Regions from separate parts of the Homo sapiens genome. Here region 1 is linked to region 2. The links come from fine-mapping of genetic effects on gene expression. A gene starts in region 2. The other region holds a variant in brackets. All regions are shown on one strand. Distances are between the middles of the regions.

The links. PIP is the estimated chance that this variant, and not a neighbour inherited with it, causes the effect. A credible set is the group of variants that fine-mapping cannot tell apart.
Region 1: its variant is the best candidate, but not a certain one, in a credible set for the expression of TMEM38A in sun-exposed skin (GTEx, PIP 0.78).

What each region holds. Positions count from the first base shown.
Region 1 is chr19:16,693,602-16,698,969 of GRCh38, forward strand. No RefSeq gene overlaps it. Among named protein-coding and RNA genes, the nearest start is that of NWD1, 24 kb to the right of the region's middle. The variant T/C (reference allele first, on the strand shown) is at 2,560.
Region 2 is chr19:16,658,778-16,664,145 of GRCh38, forward strand. TMEM38A (transmembrane protein 38A) reads left to right here and starts at 2,362. Exons shown (of 6, transcript NM_024074.4): 1 at 2,362-2,564. The coding sequence starts at 2,441. SMIM7 (small integral membrane protein 7) reads right to left here and starts at 1,367. Exons shown (of 5, transcript NM_024104.4): 1 at 1,308-1,367; 2 at 1,182-1,223; 3 at 618-670. The coding sequence starts at 1,333. RefSeq lists silencers at 1,960-2,159, 2,180-2,429 and an enhancer at 2,715-3,523.

The sequences.
Region 1 (5,368 bases), 35 kb after region 2:
GCCTGGGTGACAGAGCAAGATTCTATCTCCAAAAAAAAAAAAAAAAAAAAAAAAAAAACCAAAACAAAACAAAACAAAAAACAAAATGTTAGCCTGGCACAGTGGCTCACCCCTGTAATCCCAGCACTTTGGGAGGCCGAGGTGGGCAGATCACTTGAGATCAGGAGTTTGAGATCAGCCTGACCAACATGGTGAAACCCCAACAAGGTGTAATTTTGTAAAAATACAAAAATTAGCCAGGCATGGTGGCACCTGCCTGTAATCCCAGCTACTCAGGAGGCTAAGACGGGAGAATCACTTGAACCCAGGAGGCAGAGGTTGCAGTGAGCTGAGATTGCGCCACTGCACTCCAGCCTGGGTGACAGAGCAAGACTCCGTCTCAAAAAAAAAAAACCAACAAAACAAAAACACTATAAGTTAAACATAGGGTGGTCATGGGTGACTCACACCTATAATCCCAGGGCTTTGGGAGGTGCAGGACGGAGGACTGTTTTAGCCCAGGAGGTTGAGGCTGCAGTGAGCTGTGATGGTGCCACTGTACTGAAGCATGGGTGACAGAGCAAGACTCTGTCTTTAAAAAAACAAAAATGTGAATAAATGAACAGCTGTGCTCCGCCCATAGTATTGCCTACTGTTCAGCGAAAAAAAAAAAAAGGCGGTGGAGGTGGTGAACATGCAAAAACATGAATGAGTCTCGAATGTATCCAGATTGGTGGGAAAAAGCCATACAAAAAAGAATGTGTAATATAGGCATCCATTTATCTGAAATCCTAGAAAAAGCAAACTATTGTAACAGAAAGCTGATCAGCATGTGGTTGGGGAAAGAAGGACAGGGTAGGGCAGGTGAGAGGAATTTTGCAGTGGCACCAGGAAACTCGGGTGATGGATCTGCTGATGGCTTTGATTGTGCTGGTTTCTTGGGTCTATACCCATGTCTGAATCTATTAAATTTTACTTTTGGGTTTTTGTTTTGTTTTGTTTTTTGAGATGGAGTCTTGCTCTGTCACCCAGGCTGGAGTGCAGTGGCACGATCTTGGCTCACTGCAACCTCTGCCTCCTGGGTTCAAGTGATTCTCCTGCCTCAGCCTCCTGAGTAGCTGGGATTACAGGTGCCCACCGCCATACCTGGCTAATTTTTGTATTTTTAGCAGAGACAGGGTTTCACCATGTTGGCCAAGCTTGTCTCAAACTCCTAACCTCAGGTGATCTGCCCGCCTCGGCTTCCCAAAGTGCTGGGATTACAGGCGTGGGCCACCGTGCCTGTGCCTGGTCTAAATTTTGCTTTGATTACTTAAGATTTAAAAAAAAATTAACTTTTTTCTTATTTATTTATTTAGAGAGACAGAGTCTCGCTCTGTCGCCCAGGCTGGAGGGCAGTGGTGCAATCTTGGCTCACTGTAACCTCTGCCTCCTGGGTTCAAGCAATTCTCCTGCCTCAACCTCCAGAGTAGCTGGGATTACAGGTGCCCACCACCACGCCTGGCTAATTTTTGTATTTTTAGTAGAGACGGTTTTGCCATATTGGCCCGGCTGGTCTCGAACTCCTTGCCTCAAATGACCCACCTGCCTCAGCCTCCCAAAGTGCTGGGATTACAGGCTTGAGCCACCACGCCGGCCTCTTTTTTATTTATTTTTAATTAATTATTTTTTACTTCTTTTTTTCCCACTCATTCAACCTAAGTACTTAAAAGTTTTCATTTTATATATGCATAGTTCATCTATCAGTTATGCCTCAGTAAAGCTATAAAAAAAGAAGCTTTCAATTATAAGGAAAAAAAGTCTGGGCATGGTGGCTCATGCCTGTAATCCCCGCACTTTGGGAGGCCGAGGCCAAAGGATCACTTGAGCTGAGGAGTTCATGACCAGCCTGGCCAACACAGTGAGACCCAGTCTCTGCAGAAAAAAAAAAAAAAAAAAATTAGCCAGTTGTGGTGATGTGAGCCTGTAATCCCAGCTACTCAGGAGGCAGAGGTGGGAGGATCGCTTGAGCCCAGGAGTTCGAGGCTGCAATGAGCTGAGATTGCACCACTGCACTCCAGCGTGGATGACAGAGTGAGACCCTGTCTCATAAATAAATGAATAGGCTGCAGTAACATACTCCAGACAGAGTCGCTTAAGCCACAGACATTTATTTTTCCCTAATTCTTGAGGGTGGAAGTTTGACATCAAGGTGTCAGTTGGTTTTGTTTCTCAAGGCCTCTCTGCTTGGGTGGCAGACGGCCGCCTTCTCTGTCCTCGTATAGTCTTCCCTCTTCGTATGTCTGTATCCTAGTCTCCTCTGCCTACGAGGACACCAGTGAATTAGATCAGGGCCCACCTATAGACTTTTTTTAAAACTTAATTATCTTTTTTTTTTTTTTTGAGATGGAGTCTGGCTTTGTGGCCTAGGCTGGCGTGCAGTGGCGCCATCTCGGCTCACTGCAACCTCCACTTCCCGGGTTCAAGTGATTCTCATGCCTCAGCCTCCCGAGTAGCTGGGATTACAGGCACGTGCCACCATGCCTGGCTAATTTTTGTATTTTTAGTAGAGATGGAGTTTCACCACGTTGGCCAGGCTGG[T/C]CTTAAACTCTTGATCTCAAGTGATCCACCCACCTCAGCCTCCCAAAGTGCTGGGATTACAGGCATGTGAGCCACCCTGCTTGACTGACTATTTTAACTTAATTGTCTCTTTAAAGACCTTATCTCAATCAGTTTGGTGCTAAAAAAATTTAAAAAAAAAAGACCTTATCTCCTGTTTTAGTCCTTTCAGTGTGCTACAACAAAATACTATAAACTGGTGGCTTGTAAACAACAGAAATTTATTTTTCATGGTTCTGGAGGCTGGGAAGTTCAAGATCAAAATGCTGGCAGATTCACTGTCTGGTAAGGGCTGGCTATCTGGTTCACAGATGGTGTCTTCTTTTGGTGTCCCCACATGGTAGAAAGATCAAGGAGTTTCTTGGGGGCCTCTTGTGGAAGGGCACTAATCCCATTATGAGGGCCACATCCTCATGACCTAATCACCTCCCAAGGGCCGCACCTCCTAATACCATCACCTTGGGGCTAATTTTGGACTCAGGTGATCTTCCTACCTTGGTCTCCCAAAACAAAGGGATGTGAGTCTCTGTGTCCAGCGTCCTTTAAGGATGGATTAAATTAAAGTAACTGACAATGCCTGGTGCAGGTAAAGATTTGGGGGCAGCTGGAGCTCGCACACTGCTGGTGGGAGACAATTGGACAGTTTCTTTTAAATTTATTTATTTATGTATTTATTTGAGATAGGGTATCACTCTGTCATCCAGGCTGGAGTCCAGTGGTGCAGTCATAGGTCACTTCAGCCTCGACCTCCTGGGCTCATGTGATCCTCCCGCCTCAGCCGCTTGAGTAGCTGGGACTACAGGCACACATCACCACATCCAGATAATTTTTGTATTTTTTATATAGATGATGTCTCGCCCTGTTGCCCAGGCTGGTCTGAAACTCCTGGGCTCAAGTGATCCTCCTGCCTCAGCCTCCCAAAGTGCTGAGATTACAGGTGTGAGCCACCTTGCCCAGACTGATAGTTTCTTATTAAATTAAACATCACTTACCCTATAAACACAACAATCCCTGATAGTTTCTTATTAAATTAAACATCACTTACCCTATAAACACAACAGTCCCATTGTGGTGAAACAAAAATTCACCTATTTTTTTTTTTTTTGGTAATCACCAAAAACTGGGAACATCCCAAATGTCCATCAGTTGGTAAGCGGATGAGCCACCTGGTTTATGCATGTGATGGAACATTACACAGCAATGAAAAGGAGTGACCTTCTACAGCAGTGTGGTTGAATCTCAAATGCATTTGCTAAATGAAAGAATCCAGACCCAAGAGACTGTGTGCTCCCATTGGCGGGACATTTTATCTTTAGAGATGGGGTATTGCTTTGTCACCCAGGCTGGAGTGCAGTGGCAGGAACATGGATCATTACAGCCTCAAATTCCCAGGCTCAAGGGATCCTCCCGCCTCACCCTCCTGAGTGGCAGGGATTGCAGGTGCGTGCCACATACTCGGCTGTAGGTCATTTTAGAAATACAAAATTTTGGGCTAGGTGCAGTGGCTCACACCTGTAATCCCAGCACTTTGGGAGGCCGAGGTGGGTGGATCATTTGAGGTCAGGAGTTTGAGACCAGCCTGAAACCCTGCCTCTACTAAAAATACAAAAATTAGCTGGGGGTGGCAGGTGCCTGTAGTCCCAGCTACTCAGGAGGCTGAGGCAGGAGAATTGCTTGAACCCAGGAGGCAGAGGTTGCAGTGAGCTGAGATCGTGCACCACTGCACTCCAGCCTGGGTGACAGAGCGAGACTCCGTCTCAAAAAAAAAAAAAAGAAAAGAAAAGGAAAGACAAAATTTTAAGTATAGAAAACAGATCAGTGGCTGCCAGGAGTTGAGATGGAAGGAGAGATTATCCACAAGAGAGACAGAGGAATTTTGGGAGGGAAGGGACTGTTCTGCATTTTTAACGTGGCAGTAGTTACACAACTGTATATGTTTGTATAAACTTGCAGAATTCGCCCGGCAGCGTAGCCCTTTTGGGAGGCTGAGGTGGGAGGATCACCTGAGGCCAGGACTTTGAGACTAGCCTGGGTATCATGGTGAAACCCCATTTCTGCAAAAAATACAAAAATTAGCCGGGCATGGTGGCATGTGCCTGTAGTCCTAGCTACTCAGGAGGCTGATGTGGGAGAATCACTTGAGCCTGGGAGGCAGAGGTTGCAGTGAGCCGAAATTGCACCACTGCACTGCAGCCTGGGCAACAGAGCCAGACCTGTCTCAAAACAACAAACAAAAAAACAAACAACAAACAAAACAAAAAACCCACAAAGAAACACTACAAAAAAAACCTTGCAGAATTTTGTGGCTAAATTCTACCTTAATCTAAAAAGAAAAGGAAAAAGAGAGCAGCCTTTGGGGTTTCCCAAATCTGTTCAAATCCTGTCTTTGTTTTTTTTTTTTTTTTTTTTTTTGACAGATTCTCACTCTGTTGCCCAAGCTGGAGTGCAGTGGTGCCATCTTGGCTCACTGCAACCTCCGCCTCTCGGGTTCAAGTGATTCTCCTGCCACAGCATCCCGTGTAGCTGGGATTGCAGGCAAGAGCCACCATGCCTGGCTAATTTTTGTATTTTTAGTAGAGTCAGGGTTTCAACATGTTGGCCAGGGTGGTCTTGAACTTCTGACCTCAAGTGATCCTACCCGCCTCGGTCTCCCAAAGTGCTGGGATTACAGGTGTTAGCCACCATGCCTGGCCAAACCCTGGCTTTTAATCTCCGAGATACGTAGCTTGGGCAAGTAACTCCCCTTCTCTGAGCCTCAATTTCCTCTTAGGATGGCTAGGAGGAGTGACTG
Region 2 (5,368 bases):
GATGGGACAAGCCAAGCTAGGGCCTCTTCTCTGAAGTTTACAGTCATATGTGAGGGGCAGACATTAGCCAGATGACAGCAAACATAACAGAACATTATAACGGTAGGAAGTGATGTGAGTGCTCACATCAGGGAGGTCTGGTAGGAGAAAGAAATAGATGACAGAGGTAGGCAGAAAGGCTAGCACATTCTCAGTCATCTCCCACTCACACACACGCTCAATTAAAGAGAAAACTTGTGGCTCACGCCTGTAATCCCAGCTCTTCGGGAGGCCAAGGCAGGGATCACTTGAACCCAGGAGTTCGAGACCGGCCTGGGCAACGTGGAGAAACCCCATCTCTACAAAAAATACAAAATTTAGCCTGGCATGGTGGCACACACCTGTAATCCCAGCTACTAAGGGGGCTGAGGTGGAAGGATCACTTTAGCTCAGGAGGTCGAGTCTGCAGTGAGCCATGATCGCACCACTGCACTCCAACCTGGACAACAGAGCAAGACCTTGTGTCAAAAAAAAAAAAAAAAAAAAAAGAGAAAGAAAGAAAACGAAGGTAGGGCTTGGCGAAACAGAACTGTCCTCTGAAGTGGACCATGCAATTCCAGGATCCAATTAGACCTTACCTGTGCTGGGCTCCCTGGACTCCTCCCCAAAGCCCTGCGTGTCCTTCTTTTTCCTACAAAGAGGAGCAGACAGTGTCCACTTTCAATGGGACATAGAGTCCTCAGCCCCCTGACCCCCAGCTCAGAAGGCCACAAACACTAAGTTTCAGCCCTGGCCCTGCCGCAAACTTGCTGTGTGACCTCTGACGTTCAATACCCTTCTCTGGGCCCCCACTGCCCGGACAATCACAGCCAGGTCAGCAGCCACCGACCGTTTACAAAGTGGCCCGACAGTGCGGGTGCAGGGCGGAAGGTCCGCGGTGGGGCTATTTCTTGGGGGATGGGGCTTAAGCTCTCCAGGAAGGTGAACAGAGGGACAACCAAGGAACGGAGAGTATGGGTTTAAGGTCTCTCGGGGGGTGGGGGGCGAGGAAGATAAACCAGGCTGGAGGCGTGCCCAGAGGGCGGATAGGGCGGGGCCTGCGGCTTGGGGGCGGGGCCTGAGAAGTGCGCCGAGATCACGCTTATGAGGGCGGGGCTACGGGTTCCCCGGATGGAGCCGCAGTCCGGCCGCGACCTACTCACAGCTTAAAGTTCAGCACCGCCCCGGCATTCATCAGCAACGTCCTGCAGAGGGAGAATTACAGTTACTAGGGGCGCCCCCGCGTCCTGCCTGGCTCTCTCTTCCCAGCCTCTGGTCCCCCTAATTACCCGAACAGCAGGATGTCTCCGATCATCGTTACGGCCGAAGCGTCCGTCAGAACCGGAAGCGGAAGCCCCAGGGAGGGAGGGGAGAGGAGCACAAGCCGACCAATCCTAAAGCAACAGTGGCGAGGGCTGGGCCAATCGAAGGTCAAGGCTGGGAGGGTCCCGCCCTCTGCAGGCCAGACCCCCTTAGGGGAGCGCGAGCGCCCCACCTCGCTGGGGAGGCCCCGAGAGCCAGAATGGGAGGAGCGGGGTCTCCTGGGGGCGGGATTGGGTCACGCGTTCGAAGCGTGCCGCGCATGCGTGAGGTCTCGATGCCGTAGGGTTAGCTGGGCAGCAATTCCTACTCACTTTCTGGGGTCCCAAATTGGGCTTCTGGACAAAAGGAATCCTTTGACTCCTGAGCTGCACAGGGTGCGGGGTCCTGACGCAGTGGGGTCCCTAGAAACGGGTGCCCCAACCAACTGGGCTCTAAAATGAGATCCTCCTGGGCCCCATGGGGAACGGGGGTTCCCACTGAGCTGCCCCCCACAAGACGTCCTGATTTGCAGAGCCCCACCGGAGACGGGGTTCCTGATCGAACGGACCCTATGGGGCAGAAAAGTCTTGACGGGGCTCCACAGAGGACCGAGGTCCTAACCTATCTCCACGGGGAACAGGGGTTCTGATTCATGGGGTCCCACCATGGCGTAGGGGTCCTCACTGGGCTCCACCGAAGATCGGGGTCCTAATTGAGCCCACGGGGACAAAGTCCTGGCCGATCCGGCCCCCTGGGAACGGGCGTCCCGCGTGGGTGGGCTCCGTGAGGGACGGGCCCCCAGAACAGGCAGCTCCCCAGCCTCCCTCGCCTTGCACGGGTGCCCCGCACCCCGCCTCGCTGGGCGGAACGGGGTAGCGATGGCAGGAGGGTCAACGCCTGGGACGCCCGACCGTCCAGCTGCGTCCGTGGTGCTGGGCGTCCCCACCACCTGTCCCGGGGTGGGCCGTCGCCCCTCCTCTCCCGCGGGGGCCGGGCCTGGGGTGGCGCCTGGCGGGCGGGGGCGGGCCCAGCTGCGGGGGCGCAGTCGCCGGGCCGCGGGCGGCGGGACGGACGAGGCCGGGGCCCCGGGTGGCACCCGGCAGGCGGGCAGGCGGGCGCCATGGAGCTGCTCTCGGCGCTGAGCCTGGGCGAACTGGCGCTCAGCTTCTCGCGGGTGCCGCTCTTCCCCGTCTTCGACCTCAGTTACTTCATCGTCTCCATCCTCTACCTCAAGTATGAGCCAGGTGAGCCGGGGCGGGGGGCTGGAGGGGACCGGCAGCGGGTGGCGCGGGCCGGGGCAGCTCGGGGGTCGCAGAGAGGGGAAGCCCGTGCGTGGTGGAGGGAGCGAGGGACAGGTTCAAGGATTGCATCGTGGGAGTAGGCAGGCGCTAGAATCGTGGGGTTCTCTCACGCCGGGGTGAGCCCGGGGGAGAAGCCCCCAGGACGATGAAGCTGGGGGAGGGGAAGGAGAGGCGTGCGCGGGTTTAGAGGAGGGGGAACAGGTGCTTGGGGTCGGGGCTCCTGGTTGGGTCAGAGCTGCAGGAACTTGGGCAAGGGGCGCCGGCTGTGGCGAGGGTGCAGGTGGGGGTCGGTGCATCTGTTCTGGCCGCGCGCAGGTGTGACCTCCCTCCTTGACCTTGGCACGCGGATTGAGAGCGCCAGCGGAGTGTCTATAAGGGCCACTGCGCTGGGGGCTGCGGTCAGGTTCAGCGAAAGTGACACCGGTTCTCCTCCCCACTGCAACTGCCCAGCACCCTCCACTCCCCTCCCTTCCCCCACGGTGCTGAATCTCCGAGCCCCCACGGGAATTCTTCCAGCCCTGGCTCCAGATCCTTTCCACTTACGGAGCAGAACCGGCCCCAAGGCTGGGTGACTTGGGGTCAGTGTCCTCCATCTCAGCTCCAGACTCCACGCTGGGGAGGTCACAGGAGGGTACAGCCTGCTTCTTAATTTTTAAAATGAGGATGAATGGCTTCCTTAGAACGTGTTCTATTTTTATAAAAGGTTCACCGTGAACAAATGTTTAAATGTTTCTTGTTCACCGTTATTCTAGAACACCAGCAACTTACTAGATAATAGATTTTAGGCTTAGAAAAATAAAGGAACCCCAAACTTCATAAGCCTTTCTCCCACTTAGATGTAAATTACCACTATAGCTCAGAAAGGAAATAGCTTTATTCTCAGAGGATAAAAATAAGCGCCCCTGTTTACTAAAAACTCAAACTGAAAAGGGCAAAGGAAAAAAAGAGAATTACTGTCAACATACTGGTGGCCAGCCACCTTTCTTGATGTCTCTTCTATTCATTTACGGCTATATAGTTATAAACGTAAATGCACGCTTTTTTTTTTTTTTTTTTTTTTGCGGTTTTTTTTTTAGATGGAGTTTCGCTCTGTCGCCCAGGCTGGAGTGCAGTGGCGTGATCTCGGCTCACTGCAACCTCCACCTTCCAGGTTCAAGCGATTCTCCTGCCTCAGCCTTCTGAGTAGCTGGGACTACAGGCACCCGCCACTACACTTGGCTAATTTTTGTATTTTTAGTAGAGACAAGCCTTCACCATGTTGGCCAGGATAGTCTCGATCTCCTGACCTTGTGATCCACCCACCTAGGCCTCCCAAAGTGCTGGGATTACAGACGTGAGCCACTGCACCCAGCCAATGCACGCTCTTATGCTAACAGGATTACACTCTATTTGCTAGGAATTTTTATTCTATTTTTGCCTATCCACATGCCAGAGCCTATTTTCTTAAAAGCTATCCTGGAGAACATTACTTTGCAAAACAAAATAGGCTTTTGTGTTGTCCTAGCATGAACATGGGGCTATCTTTCCTTTCTGGGGAAGAATTCTTGGTGGTTCAGGCCAGTTCCTTGGGCAGTTGCAGAACCTTAGAAAATCTGAAACTGGCTGGGCACAGTGGCTCACGCCTGTAATCCCAGCACTTTGGGAGGCCAAGACGGGCAGATCGCCTGAGGTCAGGAGTTCGAGACCAGCCTGGCCAACATGGAGAAACCCCGTCTCTACTGAAAATAAAAAAATTAGCCAGGCATGGTGGCACATGCTTGTAATCCTAGCTGCTTGGGAGGCTGAGGCAGGAGAATCACTTGAACCTGGGAGGCGGAGGTTGCAGTGAGCCGAGATCACGCCATTGCACTCCAGCCTGGGCGACAGAGCAAGACTCTGTCTCGAAAAAAAAAAAAATCTGAAACTGAGGAGGGTTGGAGCCCTGTGGGAATGTAGGACACAAATGTCTTGAGAAAAGAGGTCTCCAAGCTGCCTGGGAACTTGCAGGAAGGTTCAAGATATTTCTGCAGAAGTCCTAGAATAAGCCATCCAGGCTCTAAGTGCCAGAGCCTGAAGGTTCCTGAAGGCTGAGAAGTGGTTCCAAACCCTGGCTATTCATGAATTCATGAGACGCTCCTGGGAGCTTTTTTTCTTTTCTTTTTTTTTTTTGAAACGGAGTCTCGCTCTGTCGCCCAGGCTGGAGTGCGGTGGCGCCGCCTCTGCTCACTGCAAGCTCCGCCTCCTGGGTTCACACCATTCTCCTGCCTCAGCCTCCCAAGTAGCTGGGACTACAGGCGCCCACCACCATGCCCGGCTAATTTTTTTTTTTTTTGTATTTTTAGTAGAGACAGGGTTTCACCGTATTAGCCAGGATGGTCTCGATTTCCTGACCTTGTGATCCGCCTGCCTCGGCCTCCCAAAGTGCTGGGATTACAGGTGTGAGCCACTGCGCCCGGCCTCCTAGGAGCTTTTAAACCCCCTATCTCCACCCCCCACCAATTGAATCAGAATATTAATCTCCCCTCCCTCAGTGACTGATGTCTGTTATCAGGGCTGAGGATACTCCACCCAGTTCAACCTCCTCCTTTCATAACTGGGGAAACAGGAAATAGTGGCTAAGCTATCTTAAATACACAATGAGCCTGTGGTCCCATGGCTGGTCAGTTGCAGCCTCGGGACTCAGCCCAGGTCTGCTTGACTCTAAGAATCAGTACAATTGATGTGAGATTGGTTTCCTTAGAAAAGAAAGGTGTTGGAGGCCAGATGTG